2 separate regions of the Homo sapiens genome follow, and region 1 is linked to region 2. The links come from fine-mapping of genetic effects on gene expression. A gene starts in region 2. The other region holds a variant in brackets. All regions are shown on one strand. Distances are from middle to middle. Region 1 overlaps PAFAH2 (platelet activating factor acetylhydrolase 2). Region 2 holds the start of PAFAH2 (platelet activating factor acetylhydrolase 2).

Region 1 (15,016 bases), 36 kb before region 2:
GGGAATTCAAGGCTTCAGTGAGCTGTGAACCCACTACTGCACTCCAGCCTGGGTGACAGCAAGACTCAGACAAGAAGGAAGGAAGGAAGAAAGGAAGGAAGGAAGGAAGGAAAGAAGGAAGGAAGGAAGAGAGGGAGGGAGGGAGGGAGGAAGGGAAGAGGGAGGGAAAGAAAGAGAAAGAAAGGAGAAAAAGAGAAAGAGAAAAAGGAAGGAAGGAGGGAAGGAAGAAGGAGGAAGGAAGGAAGGAAAAGAGTGAAAGGAAAGGAAAGGAAAGAAGGAAGGAAGGAAGGAAGGAAAGAAAGAAAGAAAGAAAAAAGAAAGAAAAAGAAAAAAAGCACTTAGACCAAGATCATTGGGGCCATTTAGTTCAAGGGCCCATTGTACCTAACCTTACAGCTATGTAAGGAGGCCCAAATGAAACAAGACTGGTAATAGCTAATGTTTATTAAGTCCTTAATCTAGCCACCATGTTAAGTGCTTTACATGCATTATTTCATTTAATTATCACAACCACCTTATGAGTTAAATACTATTAGAATCCCCATTTCACAAATAAGAACATTAAAGGCCATAGAAGTGAATGAGTTAGCATAAAGTCACAGGGCTAATAGTGTTGGAGCTGTCTGATTTCAAAGACTGTGTTCTTAGTCCCTGAACTGCTCACACCTGTAACCCCAGCCCTTTGGGAGGCTGAGGCAGGAGGATCATTGGAGCCCAGGAGTTTGAGACCAGCCCTGGCAACACAGACAGACCACTGTCTTTACAAAAAATAAACAAAAAATTAGCCAGGTGTGGTGATATGTACCTGTAGTCCCAGCTACTTGGAAGGCTGAGGTGGGAGGATTGCTTAAGGCTGGGAGGTTGAGGGTACAGTGAGCAGTGATCATGCCACTGCACTCCAGCCTGGGCAACAGAGTGACACTGTCTCAAAAACAAACAAAAAACAAACAACACCCCACACCCCACCCATCAACCAAGTACCTGACCCAGTTTCCGGTGAAGCCATTTTTCTCCCTCAACCCATTTCTCAATAATGCTGAGGATATCACTGAAACTCAACACAGGTCATGTAGAAGTTGCTGAAGATTTTGGTATTTTTTAGTTAATTGATCATGAGATTAATACATTCCCTATATCCTGAGAGTTTGAAGAAATGGGAGAAACTGCAAAGCCAAGTATGTATATTAGGGTTAACAGCACAGTAATTAAGAGCTCAGATTTTATTAGCCGGGCATGGTGGTGTGCGCTTGCGGTCCCAGCTACTCAGGAGGCTGAGGCAGGCAGATGGATTAAGGCTGGGAGGTCGAGGCTGCAGTGAGCTGTGATTGCGCCACTGCGCTCCAGCCTGGGTGACAGGAGACCATCTCAAGAAAACGAAACAAAACAAAAACCCTTGGCTGGGCATGGTGGCTCATGGCTGTAATCCCAGCACTTTGGGAGGCCGAGGCGGGTGGATCCCCTGAGGTCAGGAGTTCAAGACCAGCCTGACCAACATGGTGAAACCCCATCTCTAGTAAAAATACAAGAATTAGCTGGGCGTGGTGGCACATGCCTATAATCCCAGCAACTCTGGAGGCTGAGGCAGGAGAATCGCTTGAACCCTGAAGGCAGAGGTTGCAGTGAGCCGAGATCATGCCATTGCACTCCAGCCTGGGCAACAAGAGCAAAACTCCATCTCAAAAAAAAAAAAAAACCCTCAAACTTTGATGCCTATGTCCCAGCTTTGCCAAATTCTTGCTGAGAGCCTGATGAAATCGCTTCTTGAAGCCTGTTTCCTCCTACATAAAATGAGGCCAATGCCACCTGAGCTGGTGGGGTTACCATGAGAAGTAAGTGAAATGATGCATGTCAGCCCAGAGCACAGTCCTGACACACAGCGACAATCATCCTCAGCACCCTCATTGTCACTGTGCCCTGCAGCTATGGCCAGGGACAGCTGCCCTCTGCACCTGGCTATGATGGGATAGAAAGTGAGCTTCCTAATGAGGATGAGTCCCAAACATACAGTATGGCCTCTCCTGTCCCTCTGTCACTTTGTGAGCCTAGGGATAAGTGGTGCTCCAGAAAAAAAGGGGGTAGATGAAGGTCCCCACAAGGTCAAGACACGGAGTTGGAATCCATCATTTGACATTTCAAGAGCCCAATAGAATTTTTGAGGAAGGACAAGAGGGGCAGCTGTGTCAGAATGCACAGTGGAAGGGGCTCGGGGATTGCATTAGGGACACAGCAAGAATCCAACCAGCCTTAGTCTGAAGTCCAGGAAGTGGAAGGGATATTTACTTACCTTCCTTCCTAACTGGCTTGCCATCCCATGCACAGAAACTTCACATTATACCACTAGGAGGCCTCCATAGGCACAGAGTCTTGCAGCGGGATGGGGAATGAGAAGATGCCAAAGAAACCCAAGACAGGCCGGGCGCGGTGGCTCATGCCTGTAATCCCAGCACTTTGGGAGGCCGAGGCGGGTGGATCACGAGGTCAGGAGATCAAGACCATCCTGGCTAACACAGTGAAACCCCGCCTCTACTAAAAAAAAAAAAAAAAAGAAAAGAAACCCAAGACATCCTCTTTCTGGAAAAGATTCACTAGGATGCAATTTATCAGCACATGTCAGTTATCATCAGGATTTCCTTGCTTATCTAAAGGCCATTTATGAAGTATCCTTCAGGCCCCTGGAAGCTAACCAAAAACCAGAATGAGAGACCAAAGGCCTTGTGATACCCCTTCTGGAGCAGTCAGAGGATTACGAAGCCCATGCGCTAAAGGTGACATACTTTAGCTGCAAGGGAGTCCCTAAAACCCTTGCTCACTGACTGCCTTGTTTTCCCTTAGACAGAGTTTTAAATAATGTGGCTGATTTATCAGTCCATTGCGCATCGAAAGTCATAAACTTGAAGTGGCCAGGGAGGGCTGCTAGGGGCTGGTGCGTTGAAGAGCGATGGTTGCAGCCTGACCACAAATGAGACAACACCAACTCTGAACAGCAACGCAGCACAGGGGGCAACCCCATGCAAGCCAAACAGCTTTCTGCACCTTCCTAGATCAGAGGACACCACTTCTCTGACATGAGACCTGGTCACAAATATTTTGGCTTTCTTGGGATGTTAGGAATGGCCACAGGACGTGCTTTGGCTTATGACACATGAATAGAAATAACGAGAGTCACTCCCGGGCAGAAGCTCTCAGAGCTAGCGGGTGATTCATCAGGCTTTCTTCCTGTTCCACCATGGTGAACAGCAACACTTTCTGATAATGGCAGCTCTACCAGCCTGGATCCTAGAGTGAGGATAAAAATGATGCAGAGCAGAGCCTGCAGCCGATCAAAGAGCACAAGTGGCATGGGCAAGAAATAAACTTTTGTTGCTTTTGGGATTGCCTGTTACCACCATACAACCTAGTCTATCCTGACTGGAACATCCTAAAAGGTTGAACGAGGTCAGCTCACTTTGATTAAAAAGTGTGTGTATTATCTTTTTGGTAGATTACCATTCAAAATAATCAATATTATATTTTGCTGCCTCTAGGATAATTTTCAATTATATGGAAAATTCACATACTCTAGTGTTTGCTGGATAAATGAGTGATTACCAGAACATGAATTGAATGAAGGAAAGGGATCTAGTTTCTGGAACACTCCCTTCACTAGGGAGGCTCCAGGTCTCTTGTTCATGGTTTTGTAAAATTTACCTGTGTTATTTATGGAGCTAAGGTAGAACCTGGGTCTCACATGCTGCTACTGCCAGAACCGGCCTCTCAGCATTTGTGGAATCAGCACAAGGGTGGCGTATGCTCAGGATTGGCCTACGGCTGGTTCTGCAAGTGCTGAGGGTCTCTGGTGCCCATGTGGTAGTTGGAAGGCCCCATTATATATCTGTCTGTGCTCTCATAGAAGGAAATCTATGGGCTCGGCACGGTGGCTCATGCCTGTAATCCCAGCCCTTTGGGAGGCCGAGGCAGGTGGATCATCTGAGGTCAGGAGTTTGCGACCAGCCTGACCAATATGGTGAAACCCCATCTCTACTAAAAAAATACAAAAATTAGCTGGGTGTGGTGGCGTGCACTTGTAGTCCCAGCTTCTCAGAAGGCTGAGACAGGAGAATTGCTTGAATCTGGGAGGCGAAGGTTGCAGTAAGCCGAGATCATGCTACTGCACTCCAGTCTGGGTGACAGAGTGAGACTGCATCTCAAAAAAAAAAGACAGAAATCTATGATGTGTTCTTGAGTAAAAGAGCAAGCCAACAACTTCTTCAGAATATATAGTCTTTTTAAACATACATGGCACATTTACAACATTGATCTCATACTAGGCCAACAACCAAGTTTCAACAAATTTTGAAGGATGGAAACCATATGGGTCATTTTCTCTGACCACAAAGCAATCAAGCTAGAAAAGAAACTATAACTAGAAAAATCTCATGTTTGGAAGGTAGGAAATATACTTTTAAGTAACCCATGGGTTATACATCCTCTCACTTAATCCTCCTAACTATTCATAACGCAGACCCTCATTTTAGAAACGCAGGAGCTGAGATAAGAAAGAGAATACCATTTGCTCAAATTTACCCAGTTGGCAGTGGTGGAGCCAGGACTCAAAACCAGGCTCTGTAACTTTAGAGCCCAGGGCTTTAATGATACCCTTCTTATGCTATGTCTCATGGGAATTCAAAGATCCTCCCTCACAGCCTCAACGATCTGCTGTTTCACCTCTTAGAATGGCCAGTCACTGACAGGTGGAGATCTAGGCCCAGCTTGCTCTGGTGGCCCTGACCATGGGCCATTGTGTAGAGATGCATTTCCCTTTTGCTCTTACCTACTTGGACTGAGGCACGAAGTCTTGAGTAGTGGAGAAGAGAGTTTCAGTTTGATGCCCCCAAATAGCTTTGAACTGGATCCCTAAGAAGACTTCCTTCCTTTTAAAGTTTTTTTCCCACATGGGCCCAAGTAGTAAGCGAACACAGAAGAAAGACAGAAGGAAGTCAATTCCAGATGGCTCTCCATCTTGCTCTACTGCAGATTAAACAGAAAATTCCAACATAACATTAAGCAAACAAGAGTATTAATATCATTCATATTATAAACAGAACAGAATGGAAATTCAGTCTGTATCTGACTTAAATTTGGGGCAAGGGCCTCAGAGCCAGAAAACAGACAATAAAAGCACCCTGATTCTGAGCAAGTTGGAGGTTTATAATATTTGAGGCAAGAAAAAATGACCAAGGTACTCCTAGGCCTCTCTGGGAGTGGCCTTCTGCGTTTTTAAATTTTATTTATTTTAAATTTTTCTTTTTCTTTTTTTTTTTTTTAAGACAGAGTCTTGCTCTGTCACCCAGGCTGGAGTGCAGTGGCGCGATCTTGACTCACTGCAACCTCCGCCTCCTAGGTTCAAGTGATTCTTCTGCTTCAGCCTCCTGAGTAGCTGGGATTATAGGCGCCTGCCATTACGCCAGGCTAATTTTTTGTATTTTTAGTAGAGACGGGGTTTCACCATGTTGGCCAGGTGGTCTTGAACTCCTGGCCTTAAGTGATCTGCCTGCCTTGGCCTCCCAAAGTGTTGGGATTACAGGCATGAGCCACCACGCCCAGCCTTCTTTATTTTTAAGATGGGGTCTCGCTCTACTGTCCAGGCTGCAGCTGAGTTTTAGCTGACCAAACTACTTCTCTGTTGTGGCAAAGGCCTGTGCAAATGGCCATTTAACACTGTTGTTCTGTCATCTTCCCCATCTCAACCTGCTTTTGTTGTTTCCTATCAAGATACACTTAGCAAAACCCCCAAAGACATCCAGAGCTTCTGAGGTACCTCTGTGTACCTCAGTTTTTCTCCCTGTGCTGTGAGAGCCATGCTGTCTGCCACTCTGTGGGCTCACAAGTATAACTTACTACTGTAAGTATAAGTAGTACTATGTTCCATACAATGAGAAGACTTGGAAATAAATAGAAAATGTGATCACGGCTCACACCTAGAAATTTACATAAAGTGCTCAGACTTCAACAAGTGGCCCTGGGGAGGGAGAAGGCTGAGAGGTAGGAAGAGATGGTGTTGGGCTGGGCTAGAGTCTCTGAAGGTAGGGATTTTCATTCTGTCCTTTGGCTTCATCTCTTCCACTGAAGCAGCAGCACTGGCCGGGGGTAAGGGAATGAGCTTCGCTGGGCTGAGTCTTCACATCCAGGCCTCACAGTGCTCAGCCCGGGGCCTGGGTCTCCCCCAGTCCCACTCTACTGCTTGTTCCCCACTCCATCAAGGTCCCAGAAAGTCTGTTTGTCAATCAGCAAGGGATCCCAGTCCCAAAGTGATTTTAAGATCAAATCTAAGATCAAAGTACCCAGTTATCCAAGCAGCAGTGTGATTACACCTTTCAATCTGTGAAAAGGGGTCACGTTGATCACTTCTTGATAGGAGCTCATGGGTGCCCTTGGGTAGCTCCCAAATGAAAACTTGGCTGAAGTGACTTTACAAATGGCCAGTTGTGCCTACAGGCTGGACAGATGGTGGGGGGCCCCTGGGGTGAGCGACGGTCCAATGCCTTCAATAAGGTTGTTCCATTGATTATAGTCTTCTTTCAGGTCTGAAAAGGAAAAAAACAGGAACATTAGGCAAATCATTGTGAGGTTTGGTCAAAGAGTAGCTGACATGCATTGAAGGGGTCATCCTAGAGAGAGGAGCGCCTGGGATACCAAAAGGACTGGTTTTGGTGGGGTTGTGTGGTGGTGGCGGTAACGATAACTATCATTTATTCAGTGCCTTTATAAATGACTTACATAATCCATAACAATTCAATAACGATAATAATAACAGAGGGTAACATTTATTGATGGAGAATTCATTCTAAGGATTGTACTAAATGCTTTACATTCATGGTTTCATTTAATTTTCACCATATCCCTATGAACTAAGTATTAATACTAATCTTATTATGTAATTCAGGAAACTGAGGATCAGGGAAGCTACCTGAGTTGCCCAAGGTCATTAGAGCTATTAAGTGGTAGAGACAGAATTCAAATCCAAGTCAGAAAGGCAGAGAGGGCTGGGCATGGTGGCTTATGCCTGTAACCCTAGTGCTTTGGGAGGCTGAGGCAAGAGGATCACTTGAGGCTAGGAGTTCCTAGACCAGCCTGGGCAACGTAGCAAGACCTCAACTCTACAAAAAAATTAAGAAATTAGCTAGGTATGGTGGTGTGTGCCTGAAGTCCTACCTACTCAGGAGGCCAAGACTGGAGGATTGCTTGAGGCAAGGAGTTGGCGGCAGTGAGCTGTGATAATGCCACTGCACTCCAACCTGGGCAACAGCAAGACCATGTCTCAGAAAAAAAAAAAAAAAGGCTGAGAAAATGAAAAGTCTAGTTCCAGGCTCAAGGAGGTTACTAGGCAAAAAGCAGTATCTGACAGCTCAGCCTGTGGGTGCAAATCCAGGACCACTTCAGTGAAGGGCAGGAGCAAGAGGACAGCAACATCATGGAGCAGCGAAACTCCAGGAATGACTCAAGAAGGGGCCCTGAGCTCACAGCCAATAGGGGTAACTACACGGCAAGAACAGGCACAAAGGGTCCAAGCCCTCAGGCTGAGGGAGCAGGGCAAGCTAAGCAGATGAATGGTGTCCTTCCTCAAAACAAACAGACTCTGGGACAGAAGGCAGGGACCACTCTCATGCATTTTTGGATTCCCAGTGCCCTGCCAGGAACCTGGCACGGAATAGGTCCTCAATGTATAAGTACTACATAGTCATTAATTCAAAAAACAATAAGCACATCCACTATGTGCCACACTCTGTTCTTTGAGCTAAAAATATATCCACAAACAAAACAGATGGAAACTGCTGTCCTCACAGAGCTCATCATCTAGTGGCAGAGACAAACAATAAACATAATAACTATATAGGATGTGAAAAGGGGAGAGGTGCCATGGAAAAAAAATAGAGCCCGTTAAGGGAAGCACTGGTGGTGGCCAGGGGTTGGAGTGAAGGGAGAAAGGAAGGACCCAATGTTTTTTGTTTGTTTGTTTTTTCTTTGAGATGGAGTCTTGCTCTGTCACCAGGCTGGAGTGCAGTGGTCAATCTCGGCTCAACGCAACCTCTGCCTCCCAGGTTCAAGTGATTCTCCTGCCTCAGCCTCCTAAGTAGCTGGGACTACAGGCATGCACCACCACACCCAGCTAATTTTGTATTTTTAGTAGAGACGAGGTTTCACCATGTCGGCCAGGACGGTCTCGATCTCTTGACCTTGTGATCCGCCCGCCTCGGCCTCCCAAAGTGTTGGGATTACAGGCGTGAGCCACGGTGCCTGGCCAGGCCAATGTTTTAAAAAGGGTGGTCAGGGTGGGCCTCACTGAGAAGGTGAGATTTGAGGCCAGGCTTGAAGGAAGTGGGAGTGTGCCACGAGACTATCTGAGAGGAATGTTCTAGACAGAGGGAGGAGCAGTGCAAAGGCCCTAAGGCTGCAGCGTGCCTGGCGCGTTCGAGGCTCATGTGGTGAGA[G/C]TGAAGTGAGCCAAGGGAAGAACAGCAGGGGAGGAGGCCAGGAGGGACTGGAGGGCCACATGACATATACCTGGCAGGATAATCGAGTCTGGCTTTGGCTCTTAGGGAGACTGGGAGCCACTGGAGAATTCGGAGCAGAAGAGTGAGAAGATCTCACTAAATTCCTAAAAGGATCACTCTGGCTGCTCTATGAAGAAAAGACTCTTCAGTGCTCGCTTTGGCAGCACATATACTAAAACTGGAACAATACAGAGATGAGCACGGCGCTTGCACAAGGATGACATGCAAATTCGTTAAGCTTTCCATATTTTTAAAGAGAAATAAATAATAATACCATGATTGAGGAAGCCAAAATAATAAATAAATAAATAAAATGACTCTTCAGTAAAGTTTCAGGATACAAAGTTGGTGTACAAAAATCAGTGGTGGTGATTTTTCTGGGTGCACTGGCTCATGCCTATAACACCAGCACTTTGGGAGGCTGAGGCAGGAGGATCGCCTGAGCCCAGGAGTTTGAGACCAGCCCAGGCAATAAAGTGAGACACTGTCTCTATAAAAAACAAATGAAGAAACAAACAAAAATATCAGTAGCATTTCTATACACCAATAACAATCAAGCTGAGAACCCAATCATAAACTCAATCCCATTTGTAATGGCCACCAAAACAAAAACAAAAACAAGAACAAAACAAAACAAAACCTAGGAATACATTTAACCAAGGAGGTGAAAGATCTCTACAAAGAGAGCTACAAAATACTGATGAAAGAAATTGTAGATGACACAAACAAATGGAAAAAACATCCCACACTCATGGAATGGAAGAATCAATGTTGTTAAAAATGACCATAATGCTCAAAGCAATTTACAGATTCAACGCAATTCCTATTAAACTACCAACGCCATTTTTTACAGAATTAGAAAAAAAGTCCTCAAATTCATATGGAACCAAAAAAGAGCCTGTCAAAGCAACCTTAAGCAAAAAGAACAAAGCTGGAGGCATCACATGACCCAACTTCAAATTATACTACAAGGTTATAGTAACCAAAAGAGCATGTTACTTGTATAAACACAGAAAAATAGATAAATGAAACAGAATAGAGAACCCAGAAATAAAGCCCCCATACCTACAACCAACTGATCTTTGTCAAAGTCAACAAAAATATATACATGGGGAAAAGATACCCTATTCAACAAATGGTGCTGGAAAAATTGGATAGCCATATGAAGAAGAATGAAACAGGACCCATATCTCTCAGCATATATAAAAATTAACTCAAGATGGATTAAAGACTTAAACATAAGACTTGAAACTATAAAAATCCTAGAAGAAAAACTCTTCTGGACATTGGCTCACGCAAAGAATTCGTCCTTAAAAGCAAATGCAACAAAACCAAAAACAGACAAATGAGACTGAATTAAACTAAAAAGCTTATGTACCACAAAAGAAACAATCAACAGAGTAAATAGACAACCTACAGAATGGAAGAAAATATTTCTGAACTATATATCCAACAAAGGGCTAATATCCAGAATCTATAAGGAAAGGCTGGGCATGGTGGCTCACGCCTGTAACGCCAGCACTTTGGGAGGCCAAGGCTGGTGGATCACTTGAGGTCAGGAGTTTGAGACCAGTCTGGCTAACATGGTGAAACCCTGTCTCTATTAAAAATACGAAAAAATCAGCCAGGCATGGTGGCGGGCACCTGTAATCCCAGCTACTCAGGAGGCTGAGGTAGGAGAATCACTTGAACCTGGGGGGCAGAGGTCACAGTAAGCCGAGATCACACCACTGCACTCCAGCCTGGGTGACAGAGCAAGACTTTGTCTCAAAAAAAAAAAAAAAAAAAAAAAAAAAGAATCTACAAGGAACTCAAACAACTCAACAAGAAAAAAAAAAACACATAATCCCATTAAAAAGTAGGCATTCTGCAGAAACTGGACTCAAAAAAAGAAAAAAGTGGACAAAGGACATGAATAGACATTTTTTTCAAAAGAAGACATACAAGTGTCCCACAAACATATTTAAAAAAAAAAGTTCAACATCACTAACCGTCAGAGAAATGCAAATTAAAACCACAATGAGATACTACACCAGTCAGAATGGCCATTATTAAAAAGTCCAGAAACAATAAATGCTGGTGAGGATGCAGAGAAAGGGAACACTTATGCACCGTTGGTAGGAATGTAAATTAGTACAACTTCCATGGAAAACGGTATGGAGATCCCTCAGAGAACTAAAAATAGAACTACCATTTGATCCAGCAATCCCACTACTGGCTATCTACCCAAAGGGAAAGAAATCATTACACCAGAAAGACACCTGCACACATATGTTTATCACAGCACTAGCCACAATAGCAAAGATATGGAATCACCCTAAGTGCCCATCAACAGAAGATCTGATAAAGAAAATGTGGTGTACAGATATACCATGGGATACTACTCAGTTATAAAAAAAGAACGAAATCACGTTTTGCAGAACCGCAGGCCATTATCCCAGGTGAAATAACTCAGAAACAGAAAGTCAAATACCGAATGCTGTACCGAATGCTGTCACTTATAAGTGGGAGCTAAATGATGGGTACACATGGACATACAGAGTAGAAAAATAAGACACTGGAGACTCCAAAAGGTGGGCAGGTAGGAGAGGGGTGAGGGCTGAAAAATTACCTACTGGATACAATGTTCACTATTCGGGTGATGGGTACACTAAAAGCCCAGACTTTACCACGTGCAATATAGCTGTGTAAGAAAATTGCACTTGTACCCCCTACATCTATACAAATAAACCCAGCACTTTGGGAGGCCAACACAGGCAGATCACAAGGTCAGGAGATCAAGACCATCCTGGCTAACATGGCGAAACTCCATCTCTACTAAAAATACAAAAAAATTAGTCGGGCCTGGTGGTGGGCGCCTGTAGTCCCAGCTACTCGGGAGGCTGAGGCAGGAGAATGGCGTGAACCTGGGAGGCGGAGCTTGCAGTGAGCCGAGATCGCGCCACTGCACTCCAGTCTGGGCGACAGAGTGAGACGCCTTCTCAAAAAAAAAAAAAAAAAAAGACTGTGAAGAGAGGGACTGGCAAGGGTGGTAGTGAGGAGACCAGTTAGGAAACCACTGCACTAATTTGGATGAGAGATGATTTGGACAGGATGGTAGCTGTGGGGTGGTGACAAGTGATTCAATTCCATGTGTATTTTGAAGGTAGAGCCAATAGGATTGTTTGAGGGACTGGGTAGGAGGCATGAGAGAAGAGACAAGGATGAAGACTTTGACCTGAGTAACTAGAAGGATGGAGCTACGATTAACGAAGAAGGAAAAGAGTGCAGTTGAAATTGGTTTTGTTTGTTACTTCTATTAGATGACTAAGTAGAGTTGGGGAGCAGTGGCAGAGGGAGTCCCCAGCATGGAGTTGGCACGGAAAGCCATTAGAAGAGGTCCAGGCACTGGGCCCCGCAAGCAGCACAGCAGATGGAAGAGGCCCAAACATGGAGATAGGGGGAAGTCCACAGTGTGGATCTCTGAAGTGAAGATGGGGGTTTCCCAGAGGAGGGGGCCATCAACTTTATCAGAAGCTGCAGAGAGTTCCAGAAGTTGGGGAATGAGAACTACTGGAGCTAGCATTGTGAAGGTCACTGGGCACCCTGACAATAGCGGTTTTGATGGAGTACTGTGATGCAAAAGCCTGGAGTGGGTTAAGAGGGAATGGGAAGAGAGGAATTAGAAAAAGCGAAAGCAGACATTCTTTTGAGTTTTGCTGTGATGGGGAACAGGGAGATGGGTGGCAACTGCAGGGGATATTGAGGTCAAGAGAAAGTTATTTTTTTCTAGGAGAAACTTCAGCATGAAATGAACCAGCAGAGAGGGAAAAATTGATGATCTAAAGTAAAGAGGGGCTGGGCATGGTAGCTCACGCCTGTAATCCCAGCACTTTGGGTGGCCGAGGTGGGCGGATGACTTGAGGTCAAGAGTTTGAGTCCAGCCTGGCCAACATGGCAAAACTCCATCTCTACTAAAAATGCAAAAATTAGCTGGGCATGGTGGTGGGTGCCTGTAATCCCAGCTACTCGGGAGGCTGAGGCAGGAGAATTGCTTGAACCTGGGAGCAGAGGTTGCAGTGAGCTGAGATGGCAGCTACTGCCTTCCAGCCTGGGTGACAGAGTGAGACTCTGTCCTAAATAAATAAATAAATAAATAAATAAAATAAAGAGGGAAAAATCACTGGCGCAATCATGTTGAGCAGACAGAAGAGGATGGAATCTTGTGTTGGGGGGTTGGCCTTAATGAGGCAACTGAGGTGGGAACTCTAGTAACCGAAAGGAAAGCTGATTATACACAGGAAGGTGGGGAGAGGTGGTGTTGGGAGTCTGAGGAAGTGCTGGTTGCTTCCATTTTCTTGGTGAAGTGGGAGGCAAAGTTAACTGAGAGACAGGATAAGGGAAGAGGTGTGAGAGGTTCGAGGAGAAAAAAGGTGTGAAATAGTCTTCCAGGAGAGTGGGAGAGGAGAGTAGGTGGAGACAGGAGCTGCATGGAGTTAATATGAAGGAAGCACCAGTCTTCATAGAAGATCATATCCCCAGAACAGCCAAACAAGTGCTCTCAGAAGGAATTTTTTTCAGAGTGAGAGGTTCAGCTGAGCCACTTACAGCCTATTTTAGTTTCCCATGTGACAATGTACTGTGTGCCTACTAAAAGCTTTTCTCTCTTTGTAAAGCTAATTTGCCCAAGCCCACAGCCTTGGCCTTTTTCTTTTCTTTTGAGACAGGGTCTCACTGTGTTACCCAGGGTGGAGTGCAGTGGCACAATCACAGCTCACTGCAGCTTCAACCTCCTAGGCTCAAGCAATCCTCCTGCCTCAGCCTCCTAAAATGCTGGGATTATAGACGTGAGCCACTGTGCCCAACTTTTTCAGACTGTCTTATCTCTTATCACTCGGATTACTGCAAAAGCCTCCTACCTAAGAGCTCCCTGCCTCTCACCTTGCCCCATCCTCCACAATGCACCAGACTGTGAACACAAGTCTAATCACAACATTCACCTGCTTAGAACTCACCAGGGGCTCCTGACAGCCTGTGGAATAACATTCAAACTCACTTCAGCAAATCCATAGGCTTCTTCCTCTGGCTTCTGCCCACTTCTCTATCTTTGCCTTTCAACAATTCACTCTCCTGAGCTCCAGATACACTAAACACAGTTTCCCAATCCTGACCAGGCCCACTCAAGCATTTATGCCTTCTGTCCAGAAGACCCTCGCCCTTTCCTGCCTGTGAACCCTCCACTAAGATTAAAGGCAAACATTGTGTTGTCAAGGAAGCCCCCTTTCCTAGCTGTTCTTCCTCTCCTGTCAAAGTTAGGAGACTGTCCTCCGTGTGGACAGTCTAAAGACTGAGTGCCTACTGTGGCCATGGAACTTATCACTCTGAATTGTCACCAGAGTCACCGCCAGCATAGTGAAGTGACTAAGGGCATGGGCCTTGGAATTGGCCAGTCTAGGTTACATATTGGCTTTGCCACTTGATAACCAGATAACCTTAAAGAAATTACTTAAATTTCCTACGCTTTGGTATCCTCCCCTGTAAAATGCAGTTAATAATAAAGGTATCTACTGGAAAGGGCTGTCTCTAGAATTACACGCGATAAAGCAGGAGCAGAAGGCCTGGCATAAAGTAAGTCCTCAAAAATCTTCTTTCAGTCTAAGTGCCTCCTACCTCCCATTTCCATGTCTGCTAGCAGGTTTCTAACAGTGAGTATCTTAGCTCAACGGGTATTGCTTTTAAAGGGAGCCCAATCGTGCCATGGTGGGCTTCCCATCATCTTTCATCTTAAGCTTTTATAATGACATGGTGCCTATGAGGGGACAGGGGAAGGGGGCTGAGGACCAGGCAGTCAGGCGCCATTAAAGTCTTGAGACATGGGTCCATTCCCTGCTTGCCAGGTGATAAGAATGATGCCCTAAAATCTCTTATTGACCCTAAGGTCTCCAAACACAGGCTGGAATCAAGGCTCACGATGTGTAAGATGAAACGAACAGGCAGAAATATAAAAATGAAAATTTACTTCCAAAAAGTCAATAAATGCGTAAGACAGATGTGTTTTAAATGCAAACTCAATCCAGGCTGTTTGTTGTGCACTTGTGAGGAATGTGAATGCACTCAGGTCATCCAACTAAAAGGCTAGTGTCCAGAGCACAGAGACGGCCAGGCGCGATGGCTCACACCTGTAATCCCAGCACTTTGGGAGGCCGAGGCAGGTGGATCACTGGAGGTTAGGAGTTCGAGACCAGCCAGGCCAACATGGTGAAACCCTGTCTCTACTAAAAATACAAAAAGTAGCTGGGTGTGGTGGCACATGCCTGTAGTCCCAGCTACTTGGGAGGCTGTGGCAGGAGAACTGCCGGAGAATCGCTTGAACCCAGGAGGTTGAGGTTGCAGTGAGCTGAGATCACACCACTGCACTCCAGCCTGAGAGACAGAGTGAGACTCCGTCTCAAACAAAACAAAACAAAACAAAAAACAGAGCACAGAAGAGACTGTCCAGGATGGCACCG
Region 2 (15,016 bases):
AAGACGAAAGAGAGCCATCCATACTCCTTACAGCCCATTAACGTATGTTTATCCAGCAGCTACTGCTGCAGAGACTGTCACACAGACCTTGCTCTCCTGAGGCTAATAGTAACCACTAAGATCCATTATTTACGGTTAGCACTGTACTGACCTCTTTATAGACACTATACACATTGCATCATTTCATTGTCTCAACCACTCTCTGAGGTAGGTACTTTTTTTTTTGAGACGGAGTCTCGCTCTGTTGCTAGGCTGGAGTGCAGTGGCATGATCTTGCTCGCTGCAACCTCCGACTCCCTGGTTCAAGCGATTCTCCTGCCTCAGCCTCCTGAGTAGCTGGGATTACAGGCACGTGCCACCATGCCCAGCTAATTTTTTGTTTAATTTTTAGTAGAGACGGGGTTTCGCCATGTTGGCCAGGATGGTCTTGATCTCCTGACCTCGTGATCTACCCACTTTGGCCTCCCAAAGTGCTGGGATTACAGGCGTGAGCCACCGCGCCTGGCCTGAGGTAGGTACTATTAAGACCTTGTTTTGGCCAGGCACGGTGGCTCACGCCTGTAATCCAAGCACTTTGGGAGGTCGAGGCGGGCAGATCACCTGAGGTCAGGAGTTCAAGACCAGCCTGGCCAACATGGCGAAACCCCGTCTCTACTAAAAATACAAAAATTAGCCGGGTGCAGTGGCAGGCACCTATAGTCCCAGCTACTCAGGAAGCTGAGGCAAGAGAATCGCTTGAACCTGGGAGGCAGAGGTTGCAGTGAGCCGAGATTGCACCACTGCACTCCAGCCTGGGTGACAGAGTGAGACCCTGTCTCAAAAAACAAACAAACAAACAAAAGACCCTGTTTTACAGATGAGGAAACTAAGGCATAAAGAGGTTGAATAACCTTCCCAAGTTACCCAGTGGCAAACCCATCTCTGCCTAATCCGGAAGCTAAGTTCTTAACCATTACTGATCCTGCTCAGGGGGAGATTCAGTTATACAGATGCAAAGTTACTGAACTAAGCTTTTTCTTAAAACCGTTTGATTTTTTTGAGAGACAGGGTCTTGCTATGTTGTCCAGGCTGGTCTCAAACTCCTGGGCTCAAACAATACACCTGCCTAGGCCTCCCAAGTAGCTGGGATTACAGGTAAGAGCCACCACACCCAGCTTTTAAACTACTGAATATGGGGTAGCACTTATGCTGGGCCTTTAAAGATGAGGAAGTTGAGAGGCAGGGGAGGAGGAAGAAAGCACTTATAGAAAAAATCCTAAGAGGAAAAAAAGCAGAGGTAGGGAAAAGTATGATGTGGGCAGTAGATCAAACAGATGCTTTCAGCATGACAGGCATGCACACTCCTGACTAGATAACATTCCTACGGCTCAGCTGCTTCCTAAACTGGTGCCAGTGCTCCCCTAACCCTCTTCAGTTTCATCATCTCCAACACCACCATCATCATCATACTTACTCTGTGCCAGGAACTATGTTTAGTGCTTTTCACATATTATTTTATTTAATTCTTTCAACAGTCCTCTGAGATACGTATTATTATCTCATTTTACAGATGAGGAAACAGATGCTTGACAAAGGCAATTTACCCAATAACATATGGCGAGCAGAGCCAGAATTCGATCATGGACAATGTGGTTGTAACATGAGAATGTCAAACTTCCCAGTGTCCCTTGCCTTGTGATTTGGGTGGGGCTGACCCCTCCTTAACCTCCGGAGTTGAGCCTTAATTAACCGGAGCCAATCAGTCCTTCTTATTCTCCGGTCAGTATTTGGATGAAAAGTGCGCGTATGGCATTAGGTTGGTCCAATAGGCGTAAAACCCGGGACTTTGGTATGACGGTTGAGGGGAGAAAAGTTATTTCCTGTGTTGGACTAGTGTGATGTGCAGATGTCACCTGTCAAGTGGCCTTGAACCACAGCAGCCACTTTTGCCACCTTGAGGATGAAGATACCCATGGTGGATGGGAAAACCAGAAGAATCACAGAGAAATAGAGGCCCATTTGTGAAGACATTAAGAATCCACAGATTAGACCATACCTGAAACCTGACCCACTCCTAGACTTTCTAGTTACATGAGTCAGTAAGTTCCCTTTCTTGGTTAAACCAACTGAAGTTAGATTTCTTTTGGTTGTAACCAAAAGCATCTAAATGGATACACACTGAGTCTGGGGTCCACATGTTAATGATTAAATTATTCTGCTTCCTTTAAGATGCTCTGGGAGGGATTCAGGAGTTCCAGTCAAAGCATGTCTGGGTAAGAAGAGACCTAAGGGAGCATTTCCGTCAATCCCCTCCACAATCGTTTTCCCCTTCTCCGCGTACATACACGTGCTTTACCAGGGAAGACACCAAGGTCCGGAGAGATTAAGTGAGCTGCTCAGAGTCACAAGCAGAACGATGATAACAACACACAGTCTCCTGGTTGTCAGCTGCCACTTGTCTGGTCTCAACAATCCTAACATCATTCTATTTAACTTTGAAAGATAAGAAATTATTTTCTTTCTACTACAGATAGCATCTTCATTTTGTTTCTTTTTAGCAAATTTAAAAACAAACCCAATTCTTTTGAAAAAGAAGCTAAGCTCCTGATGTCAGTGGGTTGTTCAGCCAGAGTGAAGGGGGATGAGCTCTGCTTAGCCTGAGACCCTGACCTTTCCCCATCGCTTGTTGTTGAGGTCTGCAAATGGAAGACCTACTGCTGGGGCCACAAGACACCTGTCACTCACATGACAATGAAGCAGCTGCAAGTTCAACTGTCATAAAAGAAAAGCAGATAAAAGACCACAGGAGTTCTGAGAAGAAACAGTGCTCCTTTAGCTTGGAAGTAGAGAGCAGGGGAAGATGGGAAAGGCTCTTTCAAGCAGGAGAGAGCAAGCAAAGGCACGGTAAGAAGGAAGCTTGTGTGAGAAACAACGCAAGGTGAGAAGAGAAAGTTGTGACCAGATTTGGGGAGGAGCAGTCCCTCAAGTGCTAAGCTAAAAAGTTGGAATCTACTCTGGAAATGAGGTCATGTCCATGAGAGATAGTCTGAAAGAACCACATTGGAGGCCCAGCTCATTTGGTGCCTAGCTTTTTTTTTTTTTTTTTGAGACAGGGTCTTGCTCTGTCTCCCAGGCTGGAGTGCAGTGGCTCACTGTGGCCTCACCCTCCCAGCTCAAGTGATGCTCCCACCTCAGCCTCCTGGGTGGCTGGGACTATAGGCACTTGCCATCACACCCGGCTAATTTTTGTATTTATTTGTAGAGATGGAGTTTCATCATGTTGCCCAGGCTGGTCTCAACCTCTTGGGCTCAAGCGATAATCCTGCCTTAGCCTCCCAAGGTGCTTGGGATTACTGGAGTGAGCCACCGTGCCAGCCCTGCCTAGCTTTCTTATCTTATGCAAGTTATCTGATCTCTCTAAGCTTGATTCCCCATCTGTACAATGGGAACACTATCCATCCTCACAGGGTTGCTGTGGAAATAAAATGAAATAATGCATTCAAAGCATCTGGTGTGGTACCTGACTCTTAGGAAGCATCCAAGAAATGTGCTGATTGAGTGAAAAGTAGAAACACTAGGGTTTGGCCACTGAGTGAATCTGGGGAGTCAAGAGCCAATAAGTCAGGTTTTAAGATTGGGGAACCAGGACAATAGTCCTTAAGCTTCTTATGGGAACAGATTTTTGTCTCACTCTGCATAGAGAACAGCACTTGGGATAGGAATCAGGATAAGCGGACTTGGAAATGGCCAAACAGAAGACAGCAGAACTCTCTGGTGCTCCTGGAAAGTTTCTGGGAAGATCATCAACTAAATTGTTTGGAAATAAAAATTACAGAAGCTAATTGGCCAGAGTGAAGCTAACACGCAAATGAATCTTTATTTCCTGGACTCACATTGACTGATGTCCAAATAGGATGGAGAGATGGAAAAATCCAATCTGAGTTGCAAATTTTGCCAAAGAGACATTTACACAAAGCATCCAGAGTCATTTCTAATAAAAGTCATGGAATTTTCCAAGGAAATCAGTCTATGTGTCTCTACCTTCTTTTGCTCACTTTGTCTAAATAGTTCATGGTAGTACCTGTCCAGAAGCCTCTCCATCCACTGAGGCCCAGTGAAATCTCTAGTCCTCTGTGAAGCTTTCCCAGGTCCTTCCAACCTTTCCTCCTATCATCTCTGATCACTGTCCACATCCATTATCTGGTAACCAATCTTAGACTACTTTAGGGCAGCTCTTGGATTAACACCTATTCTAGCAGTTTTCAACCAGTGACTTGCCTGCAACAGTGGTCCATAGAGAATCTAGATCTTAGGTTCCTGAACCTATTGTCACAATCACCTGGGAAGCTTTTCAAAAATGTATATTCTGGGGGCCCCTATTTCTAGTGATCAATTCGTTTGTAAAAGCTTCCCAGGTGTTTCTGATCAGCAAAGTTTGAGAACCTCTGGTCTAGACTTTGATTAGAAATGTCTCTGGATGAACTTTTCTTTCATTCAGACACGTATGCATGCAGCAGACGCTTACTGAGTATATACTGTGTTCTGGTCCACATTTTCACGACTACGATTTCACTTGCTATAATCCCCATGGCCACCCAGAAGCATGTTCCTATCACTAGACTTAATGTAGTGCCCTGCATATAGCTGGTCTCAATAATTAATTTATCCAATGAATACTATTTAATTTTTGGCACACTTATGCCTCATCTCTTCAGATCTACTCCGGGGGTAAAGATTGGGTTTTATATTTTTTTGTAGACCAAACTGTCTATCTGCATGCTTTCCCCATATAGTTGGGACTCAATAAATGTTCCTTCATTTGGCTATGATTTAAACCCATCTCAAGTCTTCTTTAATCTTTGTTTTTGATCTAAAAATAAGGCTATATGAAATAATGGGGGACAAAGGTTTTGATGACTCTGAATTCTACCCCTGTCACTTATTAGCTGTGTGATCTTGAACAAGTTCCTCAAACTCTAAGCTTCTGATAATTTATTCTCACAACAGAAATAATAACTATGGCCAGACGCAGTGGCTCATGCCTATAATCCCAGAACTTTGGGAGATCAAATGGGAAGGATTGCTTCAGCCCAGGAGTTCAAGACCAGCCTGGGCAACATGGCAAAATCCTGTCTCTATAAAAAAATTAAAAAAAAAAAAAATTAGCTGGATGTGGTGGTATGCAACTGCAGTCCCAGTTACTCAGGAGGCTGAGGTAGGAGGATTGCTGGGGCTTGGGAGCCGGAGGCCACAGTGAACCAAGATTGTGCCACTGCACTTCGGCCTGGGTGACAGAGCGAGGTCTTGTCTCAAAAAGAAATAGTAACTATGGGCCGGGCGCGGTGGGAGGCCGAGGCGGGCGGATCAGGAGGTCAGGAGATCGAGACCATCCTGGCTAACACGGTGAAACCCTGTCTGTACTAAAAAAAATACAAAATATTAGCTGGGCCTGGTGGCGGGCGCCTGTAGTCCCAGCTACTTGGGAGGCTGAAGCAGGAGAATGGCGTGAACCCGGGAGGCGGAGCTTGCAGTGAGCCGAGATCGCGCTACTGCACTCTAGCCTGGGCGACAGAGCGAGACTCCATCTCAAAAAAAAAGAAATAGTAACTACTCACGAGATTGTTGATGAGGATTAAATAATGCATGTAAAGCACTCGATGGATAGAAGGTACTATAACCATAGGAGGCAACTATAATTATTTTAACTACATGCCTCTCAAGTTCCTTATACGTAAAATGGATACTTCGTAAGTGAAAATATTGCCTAGGGCCTGGTGCATTTTCAGTGCTTATAAAATGTTAGGAACTAATTAACAATGCTATGTCTCTCTTTCCTAGCCAAGGTCTCTCATTTTTCCTGGATTAAGCCCTTTGGCAAAACAGATTCTTTCCCAGCAGCCTTTTCAGGCCTCAGACACCCCTACCAAAGCCAGTGTCTACTGAACAGGCCCAGAGGAGCCCAGAGGGAATGGATGGGGCTTAGGTTGCAGCTGTCCTCTCCTGCTGGGACCCTGTTTCTGGTGAGCAGAGGACTGCTGCTCTGCCAGCTGTGTGACACTTTCATCACTGGCTATTTCAAGATACAGTCCAAGATAAGCACTTCTCTTGTGCTTCCTTTCAGACAAAGCTCTCTGAAGACTAAAAGCTCATTGGCCTGACCTTTGGTCTCTGGAGGAAGTGAGGAAATATCATCCAGCTCGTAGACAATGAAGACACCAAGCACTCGAGGGATGAGATTGAGCAACAAGGTGGCAGAGCTAGAGAAGAGGCCTGATAAGAGTGTTCCAGAGCATTAATAATTGTGATAAAAATAATCTCTGTCTCTTGTGAAGGTCTTACAGTTTACAAGGCATCTTCACACATACTAGCTTGTTGGCTCCTCAACACTCCTCACCTGAGACTGATGGAGCAACAGTCATCTCCGTTTTAGAGAGGAAGAAACTGAGTCCCAGAGTTGTATGATTTGCCCAAGGTCACAGAGGGTGAGAGGCAGAGCTGGCCTAGAACCGGGTCTGCTGACTTCGAGTCCAGGGTAATCGCGGATCGGAAAGAAGGAATGGGGACCCTTCTTCCACCGCCATGAAAAACAGAAAACTGAGAGTAAGAGTAAAGTACACAAAGGGTGGAGGAGCATAAAGAAGCCCGGGGTTCAGGGATGTGAGGCTGCAGGGTGAAGGTAGGGCCGAGGAATCAGGGTAGGGCTGTGGGGTCCAAGGTGGGGCTGCGGGGGCTGGGTCCTGGGACGGGAGCTCAGTGGGGATTCCAGGGGCACTGGCCGTTAAAAGTGCGAGGCGACCGTGGGAGGGTCAAGGGAGCGGGTGGCTACAGGTGTCTGAATAGGAAACGTAAAGGACGAAGATTAATGTGCAATTCCTATGACTGAGAGACGCCGAGGCCCCAAACCGGGCCAGAATACAAAAGTCTGCAGGAAGCTCAATTGAGATATAGGTGTTTTCTCCAATCAAACTTACCCAGTCAAGCTGATTCCTCAGAAGCAGCCCCAGACGTTTAACTCGACGGAAATGAGAAACGACCCATGAACCCGTGGCCCTTTGGTCGTCGTAGTTTCCAAGGCTCAAAATGGACGCTTGGAAGCACTTCTCGTTCCTCAATCTAGAACTACAATTCCCGATGTACAGTGCGCGAGATTGCGCATTACAACTCTAAAACTACACCTCCCAGAGTTCTACGCGACCGTCCAGCCCCGCGTGGTCGTGCGAAACCGCCCAAGGCCTGGGATGCGGTGTGATTCCTCCCCCTGGTGGCCTGAAGAGGTGCCGCCGCGATTTCTGCTCTCGAGCGGAGGGTTTTGCCTTAGTCCCGTGCGTAACCCTCCGCCTCACCCTCCTCAAATAGTCCTCAGGCGTGCCTAGAAATGGTCCCCGCTTCGCTTTATTCTCAAGGAGGTGGGAGGAGGTTGGAGTTTGTTTTGTGTCTTCTGCACACTTTGCTTCCTGTAAGAATAATAGACTGATCATTCAAATTAAGGGGACATTCCCTACCAGCCTGCATCTGTTGACACCTGTGATTTTCCATTGTCCTCAAAAGACTCCCTGGCAGAGAAAGGGGAGGAACCCGAGTAATCTGCTGGGCCGCATCCATCCCACATTACTGTCTAATGCTGGTTCTTAGCGACACTGATGGACAAGATACCGCTCCTAGCCTCAACAGAATCACAGTCTAGCAGAGAATTCAGACAAATGAATAATGACAGCACAGAGCCGTGATCTCATGGGGAGACACAGCAAGCGTGGGAGCCTTGAAAAGGGGCCTCTGGCCAGGCTTGGGGGAAAAGGGCGGTGTCCGCAAGGCTTTTTAGAGGGAGTGATGTTTGTTAACATTGAGACCCGATATAAGGAAAGAACGTAGCCAGGAGTACAGAGACTGTGAAGGACGTTTCAGAGTATGGCATTAAGTTCAGTGCTGGCTGCAGCTAAGTGTGAGGGATGGAAGGAGAGTATTCTCGGGGGAGTGGGCGTTAGGCAGAGCCCATCCTCAGGAGTTCTGTAAACTTCTATAGGAAATTTGGATCGTTCAGGCAGCTCAAAAACGTTCAACGGCCCTCTACTACCTATGAAGTGAAGTCCCAACTGCTTAGCCTGACATTCAAGGTCTTCTCCAACCTGCACTCCCCCACGCCCCACCCCCCACCCTTCAGCGCCCCTCCTCTGGGAGCTTTGTTCATGCCTCCAAAGTTTCCGCCGACATCTGTGTGTGCCTCGCACATGTGAGTCGACTCACACTGCCTTGGGTATCTCCTGTATTAGAGGTCTTAACTCTTGACACATTGTGAGCTCTTTGAGGTCAGGTACTGAGTCCTGCAGTCGCCCCCTCCACCCTACTCTTGCAGCCCACATCCCCCCGAAACACCAGGGTCCAGAGTCCCTGCTTTAGGCTCTCCTCTCCTGCCGACACACTGTTGTCACCCCCATCCTTCCAGGAGCCAAGATAAAGTCATCAGGAGAGAGTGCTGGCAGCCCTGCACTGTGGTAATTAAGCCTCGGATCTCATTAAATCTGTGGCTGATGGCGGTGGCCACAGAACCTGAAAAGCTTAGCGCAGATCAGAGAGCGGCTCCCTTTGGCCCATTAATCCGTGCTGTGCAGCTGGCCAGAACACTCACGACAAGCCAGAGGTCCTTGGTCATGAGAGGGACAGCTGGAGGTCATTTCTTTCAGTCTCCTACTCCCAGACCAGGCCATGCTGGAGCCATTTGCTGGCCAGCTGAGTTTAAAATTTCCCAGGGATGGGCATGTCACCACCTCCTTTACCTCCTTTGTCACAGTTAGGAAGCTCTTCCTTGGGCACAATCAGATTCTTCCCTGTTGCAAAATAAAACAGTTGAGTTTAACTATACTTCCTTCCAATCCGGTCTTTTCTAGGATAAACAACCCAAATGCCTTTACCTTTTTAAGCAAATGGTTGATTTTCCAGCATTTTCATCATAGATCTCATCCTCCAGTAGCCCAAAGTTCCCTTCAAATCTATCAGCTACCATCCCAACTCTGGCCTTTACTTTGTTGCTAAATTGCTTCAAGTTGGTATTTGGGTGACCAGCTTTGGATTTCCTTTTTTTTAGGGGGGCGGGGGGGACAGAGTCTCGCTCTGTGGCCCAGTGGCGGGATCTCAGCTCACCGCAGCCTCCGCCTCCTGGGTTCAAGCAGTTCTCCCATCTCAGCCTCCATAGTAGCTGGGATTACAGGCACATTACCACACCTGGCTAATTTTTGTATTTTTAGTAGAGATGGGTTTTCATCATGTTGGCCAGGCTGATCTTGGACTCCTGGCCTCAAGTAATCTGCCCACCTTGGCCTTCCAAAGTGCTGGGATTACAGGTGTGAGCCACCACGCACCACCAGTGGACAAAACTTTTAAAATAAAGGTAGAATAGGTATACAATAAAGTATGTAATGGGCACTAAAGTATACAGCTTAACTTCTTAAAAACATTTGCTATAACTACCATTTACTTCAAAATGTAGGACGTTTCCAATATCCTGAAAGGTTGGCTTCTCAGTTGTAATCAATCACCCCCACCCATCCTCCAGAAGGAACAACTACTTTCCGTCTCTTATCATCAACTAGTTTTGAGAAGCAACATTTTTTAACTTTGATAATAACATTTTATGCTCACTGATAGCTGATACTTGTGTCGATGCCATTCCAGTCAAAGACCACCGGAAACACACCTGTATTAAAGAAGTTGTATTAATTATTCATTGCAGCAAGAGAGAAGGCAGGCAATGGGGAAATAAGGGCAAAGGGGGTGCATTTCTGTAGGAAGGTGGAAGAAAGAATTTACAGAATTTGGGCTTTTGTTAGACAATCTGGGGAGAGTTTAAGGAAGCAGGGCTTGGCTTTGGATTGGATGCTGTCAAGAGCAAGGGTAATTCTATGACTGGGGGTCTTGATAAAATGTATCTAGAAGGAGGGGAGGCTAGACCAAGGCTAAAGCTGTCATAGGTAAGAAGCAGCAGTCTCTCATTTTAGCACGGACGGGGGGTTGGTCTTTTTCATGGTTTGGACAATATCCATTTTTTGTTTGTGTTCAGACATGATGACAGAGTGGTCCTATTTGTGTTTTGATCCATTACAGTCACAGAGTGGCCTTGTCTGCTGTTGATGTTCTATGAAGTTGTTTATGTTCAACAGGACAAGGCCAAGTCCTGGCTGTGAGTGTCAGGCTGGCCTCTGGACTTTGGGGGCTACTTTCCTCTTTCTTACATCCCAACATATGGTGACGTCTCTTCTGGGCTGTATGCTTGGCATGTAGAAATGATTTGTCTTGGCCGGGCGCGGTGGCTCACGCCTGTAACCCCAGCACTTTGGGAGGCCGAGGTGGGCAGATCACGAGGTCAGGAAATCAAGACCATCCTGGACAACATGGTGAAATCCCATCTCTACCAAAAATACAAAAATTAGCTAGGTATGGTGGCGTGCGCCTGTAATCTCAGGAGGCCAAGGCAAGAGAATCACTTGAACCTGTGAGGCAGAGATTGCAATGAGCTGAAATCTTGCCACTGCACTCCAGCTTGGCAACAGAGTGAGACTCCATCTCAAAAAAAAAAAGAAAAGAAAAGAAAAAAGAAAAAGAAATGATTTGTCTTTGTGTCCTTGGGGACTTCCTAGTTAGTGGGGAAAAATGGACAAGAAAACAAATAGACACCATTATCAAGCACTCTAGTGAAGGGAGTGAAGGGTCTGGTCTCTGGAGACAGGCTACTGAATTTAAATCCCAGCTCTACCACTTACTAACTGTGAGAACTTGGGCAATGACTATTCCCTAAGCCTCAGTTTCCTCATCTGTAAATTGGAATGACAATAGTATTTATATTATAGAATTGTTTCAAGGGTTCAATGAACTAAACATGGATCACTGGTTACTTAAGCAGCTTGGACTTGGGAGGGGGCCGGGATGGATCCAAGTTTTGGGGCTTGAAACTTACACAGTTTTGGGGGGCTCTCTTTAAGAAAAAGAATTTTAGGCCGGGCACCGTGGCTCATGCCTGTAATCCCAGCACTTTGGGAGGCCGAGGCGGGTGGATCACCCAAGGTTAGGGGTTCGAGACCAACCTGACCAACATGATGAAACCCCCATCTCTACTAAATATACAAAGATTAGCTGGGTGTGGAGGCATGTGCCTGCATTCCCAGCTACTAGGGAGGTGGGGGCTGCAGTGAGCTGAGATCGTGCCACTGCACTCCAGCCTGGGCGACAGAGTAAGATCCACCAAAAAAAAAAGAAAGAAAAAGAATTTAAAAATATCTTTTTCAAAATTTGCAAAACGTATGACCTGGGAACACATTGCTAGGTCTCCTTCCAGGGCCTGAGAAGAGGTTCTGGAGCTAAAACTTCATTACTTTCTCAATAATTCTGACTGTGGGAAGAGACAAAGAGGCAAAATTATACAATAGCTTTATTCTTTTCAAATCACTGTCTTCAAACAAGCGCTGCCAAAATGTCCTTGCCCTTAGCTGAAAACTGCTCCAGTACTCTTAGCTCTTTCTTGTATTATAGCTTACAAGTCAGTGGGCAATGCACTAGTGATGGAGAAACTGACTTAGGTCTGGTTCTGCATATAGCTACACCTAGTCTTTATCAGCATTGGGACCCAAGTGGAGTTCAAATGAATCCTTTTTAACATCTTGTTAACAAGATGTGCTTAACAAAGGTCAAGAACAGGAATTGTCCTTCCTTACTTTGCTACTGTAATCATTCTTCCATTCAAAAAATATGTATTGAGGCCAGGTGCGGTGGTTCATGCCTGTAATCCCAGCACTTTGGGAGGCCGAGGCGGGCAGATCACTTGAAGTCAGGATTTCAAGGCCAGCCTGGCCAACATGACGAAACCCCGTCTCTACTAAAAACACAAAAATTAGCCAGGCACGGTGGTGGGCACCTGTAATCCCAGCTACTAGGGAGGTTAAGGCAGGAGAATTGCTTGAACCTGGGAGGCGGAGGTTGCAGTAAGCCAAGGTCGCGTCACTGCACTCCAGCCTGGGCGACAGAGTGAGACCCTGTCTCAAAAAAAAAAAAAAAAGTATTGAGCACTTAGTATGTCCCAGGCATTATGCTTGGCACTGCATATAAAGCAGTGAATAAGAGGGACCAATTCCCTGCTCACACGGTGCTTTCATTCTAGTGAGGAGAGACAGAGTTAAACAAACAAACAGGTGGAGCGTGGTGGCTCACGCCTGTAATCCCAGCACTTTGAGAAGCTGAGGCAGGTGGATCACTTGAGGCCTGGAGTTTGAGACTGGCCTGGGCAACATAGTGAGACCCTGCCTTATAAAAAATTAAAAAAGAAAATAGCTGGGCGTGGTAGTGCATGCCTGTAGTCCTAATTACTACAAGGCTGAAGTGGGAGGACAATTTGAGCCTAGGAGTTTGAAGCTGCAGTGAGCTACGATTGCGACACCGCATTGCAGCCTGGGTGACAGAGTGAGACCTTGTCTCTAAAGCAAAAACAAAAACAAAACTCCAAACAAACACATAACCAAGATAATTATATACTATGTTAAATGCTTCACAGGAAGTAGGATACTGCTTTGGTGGAGAATGAAGGGAGTGAGCTACTCTCAATAGGGTGGGAGGGAAGGATTCTCTGAGGAGCTGGCATCTGAGCTGAGCCCAAGCATACCTACCATTTATTGATTATCTCCTATGTGTCAGCCATGTCATTAGGTAACTTTCAAATACTTTACATTTAATCTTCCTGTGAAGTATGTCATGTCTTTTCCATTTTTCAGATGAGAAAACAGAGGCTCAAAGAGGTAACAGCGGACAGTGTTGACACCTGCCTCATAGCCCCTCATCCCTTCTCTGAGTTCCCTTGCCAGTGTGGTAGTTTTCAGCATGCTCAGGGCTCCACCACACAAGAGCCTGCTTCTCTTGGCTTCCTTGCCTGAGAGCTTTCTTAAGTATCTATGAACCAGGAGGAACAGGCGTGTTATGTATCCCAAGGGCAACCTTCAACCATCAAGAGAGTTGGTGCCTAAATGCCCAACCTCCTCATCTTCACATAGGAGAGTCTTTTCTTTTTCTTTCTTTCTTTCCTCTCCTTCCTTTCTTTCTCTTTCTTTCTTCTTTCTTTCTCTCTCTCTTTTTTTTCCACTTCCCCTTCTTCTTCCCCTTCCTTCCCCTCCCCTCCGCTTCCCTCCCCTCCCCTTCCCTCCCCTCCCTTCCCCACCCTTCCTTTCCCTTTAAATTAAGAAACAGGGTCTGGCTCTGTCGCCCAGGCTGGAGTGCAGTGGCACAAATATTGCTCACTGCAGCCTCAAACTCCTGGGCTCAAGCGATCTCCCCATCAAATAGGATGATTTCACACTGTCTCTCAGAAGGTCTCCAGCAGAACTGCGCCCAGGTGCTCCTGGCAGCAACCCGCACATTCACGCACCCTTTATTACCTTTTCTCTTCCCGGTCTTACTTTCTCCATGCCCTTCTTCTGCTTCCTGAAATTACCTCCACAATTTAGTTCCAGCACCTGAGTCTCAGGATCTGCTGATGGGAGAACTCAAGCTAAGACTAAGTGACTTGCCCAAGGCCACCCAACCTAGTGGCAGAACTGAAATGTGCAGCCAGGTCTGCCTGGATCACATTTCACAATCCTCACTGCTGCACCCCATGACAGTAAGCCTGAGATGGAGCTAAGCCTTTTATTTTATTTTATATATATATACATATATATATATATATATATATATATATATATATATATATATATATGGAATAGTTTTTTCTTTCCAACTTTTAAGTTTAAGGGGTACATTTGGAGCCTAAGCTTTTTAGTCTGGCTCAAGGCCCTTCACATCCTGACCCTAGCTGATCTTTTTTGACTTATCTCCCACCTCCTCATTCTTGGTCACCCCTTGCTCCAGGGACAGCAAACTGCTTGGGAACATAACGTTCTCCAACCCTGCCATGCCCTGTCACCCCTGCATATCTTTGCAAATGCTGTCTTTTCTGCCAAAATATGGGTTGAATCTGTGTGGTCCAGACAATAACCACCCTGGCCCCACTCCACCCAAAGAATGCCAAATGCCAGTGTCCAGCCCTGGGAAGGAACATGTTTGTGCCAAGTGCTCGGCACATCTGAGCTCATTCAGTTTGCACAATGATTCTGAGAGGTCAGTAGCTCCACCCTCAGTTTGCAGGTTCGGAAACCAAGGTACGCAAAGGCCAGGTGACTTACCCAAGGTCTTACAGTTAATGGCTGGCAAAACCAGGATTAAACTCAGATTTCCCTGTTCTGCCACCATACCTTGATGCCTGGCTGGAGGGAAGGGATGGGAACTGGGTTTTCTGAGGCTGCTCTCACATTCCCTGTCTGCCAAGCCTAAGTGTAGAGATGGGGGGCATCTGCCAAGGCAGCTGCCAGAGCCCTAGCTAGGTGGAGAAGGGACTACGGAGCCCAGAAGGAGGCCAGGCTGAGGGGGCTTCCTGCAAGGAAAAGAGCTGGTCATCCTGCTCACTCCTACCTGGGAGGGGGAAGCATTACCCTTTCTGCTTTCTGGCTCCTTCCAGGCCTTTGGGAGTTTACTTGGCCTCAACAATGTCCTGCTTCCCAGAATCTCTCATCAAAAATGATTCTTGGAAACTGGGCCAGTTCGGGGATGCCTAGAGGCCAAGGCAGGGCTGAATTCCTGCTCTTAATGTTCTCTTCCTGGCTCCCAGCATTGTTATCATCAAGTCTATCAAATGCCTGGTAAAGGGTTGCCAGCCTGCAGAACATGAGATGATTTGGTGAGCACCAAGTTCTCAGTAGTTTTGGAGAAATTGGATGGGGTTGCAATGGGAGTGGGGGTGGAAACCTTGCCAGCAATATCGTGCCAATCTCTGCTTAAAATTTCTAGGGATACTGCTTAGCCTGACATAGCACTGGTTTTGGGTACAGGGGCAGGGCAGAGAGGTTGGCAGCAGATGGGGTGCAGCATGTGTAGTAGGGTAGGGTGTTCTTAGGTCCCCAGGGGAGTGTTTTCCTTCCATGATCAGATCCCATTGTAGGCGGCAATGCCTGCTGTGAGCCTAAGAAAATTA

Evidence for each region.
Region 1: its variant is fine-mapped to the expression of PAFAH2 in whole blood (INTERVAL, PIP above 0.99).

Annotation. Positions count from the first base shown.
Region 1 is chr1:25,955,521-25,970,536 of GRCh38, forward strand. It overlaps PAFAH2 (platelet activating factor acetylhydrolase 2), which reads right to left. Exons shown (of 11, transcript NM_000437.4): 11 at 4,247-6,563. The coding sequence ends at 6,469. It also overlaps the pseudogene RNU6-110P. Among named protein-coding and RNA genes, the nearest start is that of PAFAH2, 35 kb to the right of the region's middle. The variant G/C (reference allele first, on the strand shown) is at 8,469.
Region 2 is chr1:25,991,075-26,006,090 of GRCh38, forward strand. It overlaps PAFAH2 (platelet activating factor acetylhydrolase 2), which reads right to left and starts at 6,989. Exons shown (of 11, transcript NM_000437.4): 1 at 6,951-6,989. RefSeq lists enhancers at 2,497-3,008, 6,735-6,814, 6,985-7,074, 7,085-7,134.